Regions from separate parts of the Homo sapiens genome. Here region 2 is linked to region 1. The links come from fine-mapping of genetic effects on gene expression. A gene starts in region 1. The other region holds a variant in brackets. All regions are shown on one strand. Distances are from middle to middle. Region 1 holds the start of ZNF580 (zinc finger protein 580). Region 2 overlaps EPN1 (epsin 1).

Evidence for each region. PIP is the estimated chance that this variant, and not a neighbour inherited with it, causes the effect.
Region 2: its variant is the best candidate, but not a certain one, in a credible set for the expression of ZNF580 in whole blood (INTERVAL, PIP 0.51).

The regions. Positions count from the first base shown.
Region 1 is chr19:55,638,724-55,642,980 of GRCh38, reverse strand. ZNF580 (zinc finger protein 580) reads right to left here and starts at 1,979. Exons shown (of 2, transcript NM_207115.2): 1 at 1,798-1,979; 2 at 1-484. The coding sequence starts at 472. It overlaps LOC107983998 (a long non-coding RNA gene), which reads right to left. Exons shown (of 2, transcript NR_171683.1): 2 at 2,182-2,855. It also overlaps a transcript of ZNF581 not described here. RefSeq lists silencers at 124-418, 1-419, 1,610-2,129.
Region 2 is chr19:55,698,418-55,702,925 of GRCh38, reverse strand. EPN1 (epsin 1) reads right to left here. Exons shown (of 11, transcript NM_001130072.2): 11 at 1-4,508. Among named protein-coding and RNA genes, the nearest start is that of EPN1, 25 kb to the right of the region's middle. RefSeq lists a silencer at 489-783 and an enhancer at 288-1,172. The variant A/G (reference allele first, on the strand shown) is at 2,975.

The DNA of each region.
Region 1 (4,257 bases):
GGCGTGGGCAGAGCGGGCAGGTGTGCGGCGGCCCGGCGCGGGCGCGGTGCGTGGCGCGATGCCGCGACAGGTGGCTGGAGCGCTTGAAGGCCTTGCCGCAGGCGCCGCACGTGAAGGGCTTGAGGTCCGAGTGCGACACGCGGTGGCTCTGCAGCCGCAGAGGGCTGGCAAAGACACGGGCGCACTCCGGGCAGCTGTAGCCCTTGCGAGGGCCGGGCTCTCCTGGGGGCGCCTCGCGCTGGGGCGGGCCCCGGGGCTCCTCCTCCAGCTGCACCGTGTATGTGTAGGGGACCCCATTGGCGTCGATGAGGAGGTGGCGGCCCAGCCGCGGGGGTCGGGGCCCCGCCGCCGAGGAAGGAGTGGAGGAGGGGCCTTCCGCCTTGGGGAAAGGGGGAGCCTTGGGGGGCGGTGGGTCCATGGCCTCCGGAGAGGAGGACCGAGGGTGGGGTGGCCGCGGCGGCAGCAGCAGCATCTGGAGCGGCAGCTGGGAGCGGCGGAGGGGAGATTAGTTAAAATTGCCACTTCCTTTTAGGAAAAGTTTCCTAAAATGGAAAGCATCCCCACTATCACTGCTTGTTACCCTTTGTGCGCCACTGACTACCTCCCTAGCAAAATAAAAACTGTGACTCCAGCCCGGCTCTCCCACGTTCCATCAAGCTGCCTCGGAGAGGGCCTCCAACTGAGCTCTGCAAAACCCCGCCACCACCTGCCACTCCTCCTGGGTCCACCTCTCACCACTCAGGTCAGGTCTGAGGACGTAGTCCCCCGACTTTTCTTCCCTTTTCTCCTCTCAACCCACCCCAGCAGACAATCAATCCCTAAATCTGTTTACCTCTTTACATCTTAGACCCCGGGCCTCCTGACCGCCGAGATTTCTCTAATCTGTGGTTTCTTCTTTTTTCCTGTTGCCCAGCCCCAGTTCAGTTTACTTCCCCTCCCTTTGCCGCCCCCTACCCCCCCACCGGCCCCCGTATCGGCCTCCTGGCCCTCCGTCCCCACTACATGCCGCAGGGCCTCCCCATCTTCATATTCCGTGGCCTCCCTCACTTCCTCTCTAGGTACCTCCCCAGAGCCCCACTAACCCAATTCCCCACATTTCACTAGGGCTTTTCCATCCTGTTCCTACACTTAGCACCTCGAAGTCTAGTCACCTCTCCCCACTACGGAACCCATCGTCTTACTACATCTATACACCCCAAAATGGCTCAAATGCCTTCCTTCTGTATACCCCGCCCCCCCAACCTGGCTACCTGCTACATTCTCCCCAAAGGCCCCCTTTTCTCTCGCCCCCCATATATGGCGGTGACATCGTTACTTCTTTCTGTACCCATCAGGGGCCTTCTCCCAAACCCCGTTATGCACACCAGGCTCCGGGACTCCGCTTCCCACAGCACCTCTCCCAAGCCCACTTTCCCCTCCTTTCTGTGTACGTCTGGCATCTCTCTTTCTCCTCGTGTTCACCTCTTCCAGGAGCCCCATCCCTCTCCCTGTTACACACAGCGTGGTCCCCCGCCCGTTCTTTTGCTCTGCTCCCCTTGTTTATGGGAACCCCAGCGCCCGGGCGTTTTCGCCCCCATCCCGCTACACACCGCCTGTCCCCTGGCCCTGGGGCCCCTCCTATTGCCTTCACTTCCCCAAGGAGCCCTGGCGCCTCGACTTCCCCTCCCGTCCCTCCGCCCGATCCTGCCGCTCCCGACCCCCACCCCCATCCCGGGTGGCTCCAGCGCACTCCCCCAGCCTGCCTGGCCCCGGCGTCGTCCCAGGGCCAGGCTCCTCCCTCCATCCCGGCCCCCGTACCCCGTGCGGCGGCCTCTCGGGTCCGGAGGAACGGGCCGAGGTCCCGGGCGGCCCCGGGCTTCCCCTGGCGAGCGCCGGCGGCGGAACCGAGACTTCCGGGCAGCTCCGGGCCGGCGGCGCCGGGGACGCGGGGACTGGGGGCGCGGGGGTGCGAGGGGTTGGCGGAGTCCCTGGGAAAAGGCGCCGGCCGGAAGCGCGCGAGCCCAGTGCGGAGGTTCCGCCGCCTGGAGCCGGCGCTCCCACCCCTCGCCTCTGCGGAGCGCCCTGCGGGGAGGGGACCGGAGGCGTGGGGTCCACTGAAGACGCCCGCCCCCGGCGGCCCCGCTCCCCTCCCACCTCCCGAACGGAACGATTCCGCCGCTTGACAAGAGATCGGCCAATAAACCGAGACTAAGCAAAGTTACGTCTTCGCCCTAAGGCCCACAAGGGTTTGTCCTCTTTCCACTGGGCCGTCGCTGCCTGCTCGGCCGTGGCCACCCACCGAGGTAGAGGGCGGGAGAAGGGATGTTCCTGCCGGCTGAGCAAATGTGGAGACCGAGGTCCAGAGACCAGCCATTGGCTCCGATGTGGCCGGGCCGTGATTCTCCACCCAGCAAATGGGGAGGCCGAGGCCCGGAGAAGGCCAGACGCTGCCAGATAGTTGGGGAAGGTATGTTCTTTCCACGGGGCACATGCGGGAACCGAGGCCCACAGAGGGCCAGACGGCTGCATGCGCAGGTGGGGAGGTGTGATATTTCCAGAAGGCATGTGGCGACACCGAAGCGCAGCGAAGGCCAGGCTTTGCCAGATGCGGAGGTGGGAAAGGCTGGCACTGCCCACGGGGCCCACTGGAAGCCTGATGCGGGCTCGCGGGCTGCGCCAGGTCCTGGGGCACTTGAGGCCCGGGCGCTGGCTGCGCATGCGAAGGACTCCGGCGTCGAAAGCAACGCGCGGTGGCGCTGCAGCCGCACTGGAGAGCTGCACACGCGGCAGCACTCGGGGCAGCTGCAGCTCCTCCTCCAGCCACGTGGCGCCACGGCCTCGCAGGAGGGCGGCAGCAGCAGCATCTGCAGGTGCAGCTGAGAGTGGGGGACAGAAGAGGAGTAACTGTCACAGCGAGCCCCAAGACCCTGGGGTGCCACAGCTACATCCTAGAGCACTGTCCATCAGAACTTTCTGCAATGGTGGAAAGTTCTATGACAGTCACTAGCCACGTGGGACTCTTACACTCTTGAAATGTGGCTGGTGTATCAGAGGACCTGAATTTTAAATTGTATTACATTTCCCATAATCAGCACGGTGGCTCACACCTGTAACCCCAGCACTTTCGGAGGCCAAGGCGGGCGGATCACCTGAGGTCAGGAGTTCGAGACCAGCCTGGCCAACATGGTGAAACTCCTTCTCTACTAAAAGTACAAAAATTAGCCGGCCGTAGTGGTGCTCCCCTACAGTCCCAGCTACTTGGGAGGCTGAGGCAGGAGAATCGCTTGAACCCAGGAGGTGGAGGTTGCAGTGTGCCAAGATCGTGCCACTATACTGCAGCCTGGGCAACAGAGGGAGACTGTCTCAAAAAATACTAATTTCCCATAATCAAAATTTAAGCCACATATGGCTCCTACCTTATGGAACAATTCCAGAGACCACTGTCAACCAGTTGTAAACTGGAGGCCCAAGGGCCCAAAAGGCCTCACAGTTATATTTGGTTTGGGACACAAGGTACTTTTTAAACATTTTACTGGGCAGTATGTATATTTTTTGAGACAGAGTCTCACTCTGTCGCCCACGCTGGAGTGCAGTGGCATGCTTCTGGCTCACTGCAGCCTCACCCTCCCAGGCACAAGTGATCCTTCCACTTCAGTCTCCCAAACAGCTGGGACTACAGGCGTGGGCCACCACACATTTTGAGCCGGACCACTCTTTGTTGTGGGGGCCCATCCTGTGCACTGTAGAGTGTTGAGCAGCATCCTTGGCCTCCACCCACCAGATGGCAGTAGCACCCTCCCCCAACCCCAAGTTGTGACAACCCAAAATGTCTCTACACATTGCCCGTGTCCTCTAGGAGGCAACATGGCTCCTAGCTGAGAACCCCTGGTCTACTTAGACAATTATCCAACCTGAGTGTCTTGCCAAGATCCCTGATATAGTTAAGATGTCTGTCCCCTCCAAATCTTTTTTTTTTCTTTTTTTTTTTTTTTTTTGGAGATGGAGTCTTGCTCTGTTGCCCAGGCTAAAGTGCAGTGGCGCAATTCTAGGCTCACTGCAACCTCCAACTCCCGGGCTCAGGTGATTCTCCTGTTTCCACCTCCCAAATAGCTGAGATTACAGGTATGCACTACCACGCCCAGCTGTATTATATAAAATATAACAATTTTATATTTTTGGTAGAGACAGGTTTCACCATATTAGCCACCTGGTCTCCAACTCCTGACCTCAGGTGATCCACCTGCCTCAGCCTCCCAAAGTGCTGGGATTACAGGGTTG
Region 2 (4,508 bases), 60 kb before region 1:
CTACTCGGGAGGCTGAGGCAGGAGAATGGCATGAACCCGGGAGGTGGAGCTTGCAGTGAGCCGAGATCGCACCACTGCACTCCAGCCTGGGTGACAGTGCAAGACTCCGTCTCAAAAAAAAAACAACAGTGAAAGAAAAGAAAGGAGTAAATGCGGCTTAGATGAACGAATAAATGCATTCACCCATTCTACCTGAAATCAATACCCAATTGATGTAAGAAACAGAAATCATTTAGGTAGATAGGGCGAAGAGAGTCCCCAGCAAAAAACTTCCTAACAAAAAGCAGCTTAGAAATTGCTCCCTTTCTCACCACACCACGCAGTTCAAAGAAATCACTTCTCCTAACAAAGAGCAGCCTGATCTTTCAGGCTGTAAAACACAGATAAGCAACTCGGGCACAGACTTGGGAGGTTCCTGGGTAATCACCAAGCCACATACATAGATGGGCCCCAGTGAAAACAGTGGGCCTAAAGCACATTCCTTTCCCTTTCTTTAGGCACACTAAGGGAAGCTGGAAGCGCGTGGGGGAGATGCCTGCAGCTGCACGAAGGTGCCTGGGAATGGGCACAGAAACACTCCCTCCCCTTTTAGCACACACAGATAAGCAGCAGCGCAGAGCAGCACAAACGAAGGGCCTGCCTGCAGGATCAAAGAATGGGGTGGGGGCCCGGCGCGGTGGCTCACGCCTGCAATCCCACTACTTTGGGAGGCCGAGGCAGGCGGATCACTTGAGGTCAGGAGTTGGAGACCAGCCTGACCAACATGGTGAAACCTTGTCTCTACTAAAAATACAAAATTAGCCGGGCATGGCTGCATGCACCTGTAATCCCGACTACGCGGGAGGCTGAGGCACGAGAATTGCTTGAACCTGGGAGGCGGAGGTTGCAGTGAGCCAAGATGACACCACTGCACTCCAGCCTGGGCGACAGAGCGAGACTCCATCTCAAAAAAAAAAAAAAAAAAAAGAATGGGGTGGGGGCTGCTAGAGACTCTGCTCGATGCAGACAGCACACCTGGTCCTAACTGGTTCTTCAGGCCCTAGGAAGAAAAGACACCCCTCCTCACTAGCCCATCTATAAAACCCCTGACATTTCTTCTACAACTTCACAACCCGTTCGGGACCCGTCTCTGTGACAGAGCTGTTTCTTCCTTTTGCCTATTAAACTCCTGCTCCAAATCTCACTCTGTGTGCATCCACATCCTTGATTTCCTCGGCTGTGAGACCAAAAACCTTAGTATTTACCACAGACAAGACCGTTTTACAGGAACAAGCCAGGCAGGGTCCCGAAAGCTCAGTATTTTAAGGGTCTAACAGGGAGAAGTTCTCATTAATGTCAGCTCCTTCTGAGAACTGCTGGGGTCAGAATAGTCCGGGAAAGGGGAGAGGAGACACAAGGTCCTTGTTCAAATCATGTATTTCTTAAGATACTAAGAGAAAAAAATACAGGAAACAGTATCATTTTTTTTTTTTTTTTGGAGACAGGGTCTCACTCTGTCACCCAGGCTGGAGTGCAGTAGTGCAATCTCGGCTCACTACAACCTCCGCCTCCTGGGTTCAAGCGATTCTCCTGCCTCAGCCTCCTAAGTAGCTGGGATTACAGGTGCCCGCCACCACACTAGGCTAATTTTTGTATTTTTAGTAGAGACGGGGTTTCGCCATGTTGGCCAGGCTGGTCTCGAACTCCTGACCTCGTGATCCGCCCGCCTCGGCCTCCCAAAGTGCTAGGATTACAAGCATGAGCCACAGCACCCAGGCGAAACAGTATCATTTCTAACCCTTTTCATGTGGCTGTCAGGACATGTTTCAAGCACCGAGTCCAGCATCTTGATAAGATGGGAACCAGGGAGCCCTCAGGGCCCCCGCGCCAGCCCTCCCACTGCAAACCCACACCACCCTGGCCGTCTGGAGCTTGTCCCAGCCCGGCTCCCCGTGACATCGGGACCTGGCCACTCCTGGACGTGATGCCCTAAGCTTGCCTCCCCTGCGGATGGATGTAGTGATGCTTGATTTGGGTGGATGAGAACATTCCCCACAACACAAGCCATTTTGCAACCTCACCTCCCGAGCCTCTGAGCTACCTTTCATTCCCCTCTGAGCACGCAGGGTTAACTGCTGTAGGGGTTACCCCCATCAATGCATGAGTTATACCTTTTGACAGTAACACACAACGATTACTAGAGAGCATGTCATTACCATTTTTAAGTGCTCCAGGGGAGGGGCCATGAGGAGGCTGTAGGTGAAACAGGAGTGGTTCAAATGTAAATGATGGCTGAACACGAGTGAGGCATTTGCAGGGGTGGTTATGATAATATTGTCTATAGTTTTGTGTGCTTCAAGATGTCCCTCAGAAAGTTTGTAATTATGGGCCGGGTGCCGTGGCTCACGCCTGTAATCCCAGCACTTTGGGAGGCCGAGGCGGGTGGATCACAAGGTCAGGAGTTCGACCAGCCTGGCCAATATGGTGAAACCCTGTCTCTGCTAAAAACAGAAAAATGAGTTGGCTGTGGTCGCACGCACCTGTAGTCCCAAGTCAGGAGAATCGCTTGAACCCGGGAGGCGGAGGTTGCAGTGAGCCGAGATCGCGCCACTGCACTCCAGCCTGGGGGACGAGAGCAAGACTCCATCTCAAAAAAAAAATAAATAATAATAATAAGGAAAGGAAGTTTGTATTTATGGAGCAGTCATTAAATAGTGCTTTATGGGCCGGGCACAGTGGCTCAAGCCTGTAATCCCAACACTTTGGAAGGCCGAGGTGGGCAGATCACGAGGTCAGGAGATCGTGACCATCCTGGCTAACACAGTGAAACCCCGTCTCTACTAAAAAAATACAAAAAAATTAGCTGGGCATGGTGGTGGGCATCTGTAGTCCCAGCTACTTGGGAGGCTGAGGCAGGAGAATGGCGTGAACACAGGAGGCGGAGCTTGCAGTGAGCAGAGATCGAGCCACTGCACTCCAGCCTGGGCGACAGAGC[A/G]AGACTCTGTCTCAAAAAAAAAAAATAGTGCTTTAGGAAATTATAAATATCCATACTAAAATAATGTGGATGAAACATAACATTATATAATTATCCCTGAAAGTAAAACAAAAGCATGAAGAAACATTCAATACAAAACAAACAGCAAAGGGAGCGATTTCTCGGCGGAAAGCATGCTGGAACCCTGTGGAAGCGTGGGCTGTCCCAGGACGTGCAGGCAGGCCTTAGACCCCTGCCACATACAAGCAATCACCGGGGGTCAGCACACTTTTTGTTGAAGAGCCAGATAGTAAATATTTTAGGCTCAAGGGACACTCGGTCTCTGCCACACTCAATGTCACCATTGCCACTGTAGTGCAGAAGCAGCCGTGGCTGCACTCTAATAAAACATTTTTTTTTACAAAAGCAAGCAGCCAATCCTTGGGCTGCAGTTTGAGAAACTCCAGGGGCACCTGTGATGTGAGTAGGCCGGTTTCTCACCACAGTGAAGGGCCTGGCAGGATGGCGCTTGAGGGATGAGCTGGACAACCCACAGTCATCACAGAGACAGACAAGTTCTCAAGAAATAAAACATTTCTGGCCGGACGCAATGGCTCACGCCACACCCGGGAAGCTAGAAGCACGTGTGGGGGAGATGCCTGCGGCTGCAAGAAGGTGCCTGGGAATGGGCACAGAAACTCTCCCTCCCCTTTTAGCACACGCAGAAAACCAACGCAGAGCAGCACAAACTAAGGGCCTGGGGGAGGCGGGAGGGAAGGCATTAGGAGATATACCTAATGTAAATGACGAGTTAATGCGTGCAGCACACCAACATGGCACATGTATATATATGTAACAAACCTGCGCGTTGTGCATAGGTACCCTAGAACTTAAAGTATAATAAAAAAATAAAAAATGAAATGGGGTGGGGGCCGCTACAGTGGCTCACGCCTGTAATCCCAGCACTTTGGGAGGCCGAGGCAGGCGGATCACGAGGTCAGGAGATCGAGACCATCCTAACATGGTGAAACCCCGTCTGTACTAAAAATACAAAAAAAAATTAGCTGGGCGTGGTGGTGGGCACCTGTAATCCCAGCTACTCGAGAGGCTGAGGCAGGAGAATCGCTTGAACCCGGGAGGTGGAGGTTGCGGTGAGCCGAGATCGTGCCACTGCACTCCAGCCTGGCAACAGAGCAAGACTCCTTCTAGGGGGGAAAAAAAAGGGCATTTCTTCCTATTCAATGAGAACATGAGGAAAAGGCAAAAGGCAGAGGCTGGCTGGGAGTGGGTTTGTGTGTGTAAAATTGAGTTTCAGTATAAAAAAAGATCAAGGCAGGACTGAAAGCCCTGAGGCTGGCATCGCAGCTCCAGAGCGAGGGGCAAGCGTAGGGCGAGGAGCGAGGATAGGGCGAGGGCGGGAGTAGAGCGAGGGGTAAGGCTAGGGTGAGCACAGGTGGCAGGGGACTCTGGTGGGCCTGGACTCTGGTGGGCGGGGTGACCCAGGAGCTCGGATGAAGCTCCTACGGGCTCCAGGAAGGTTCCCTCAAGTGCCTTC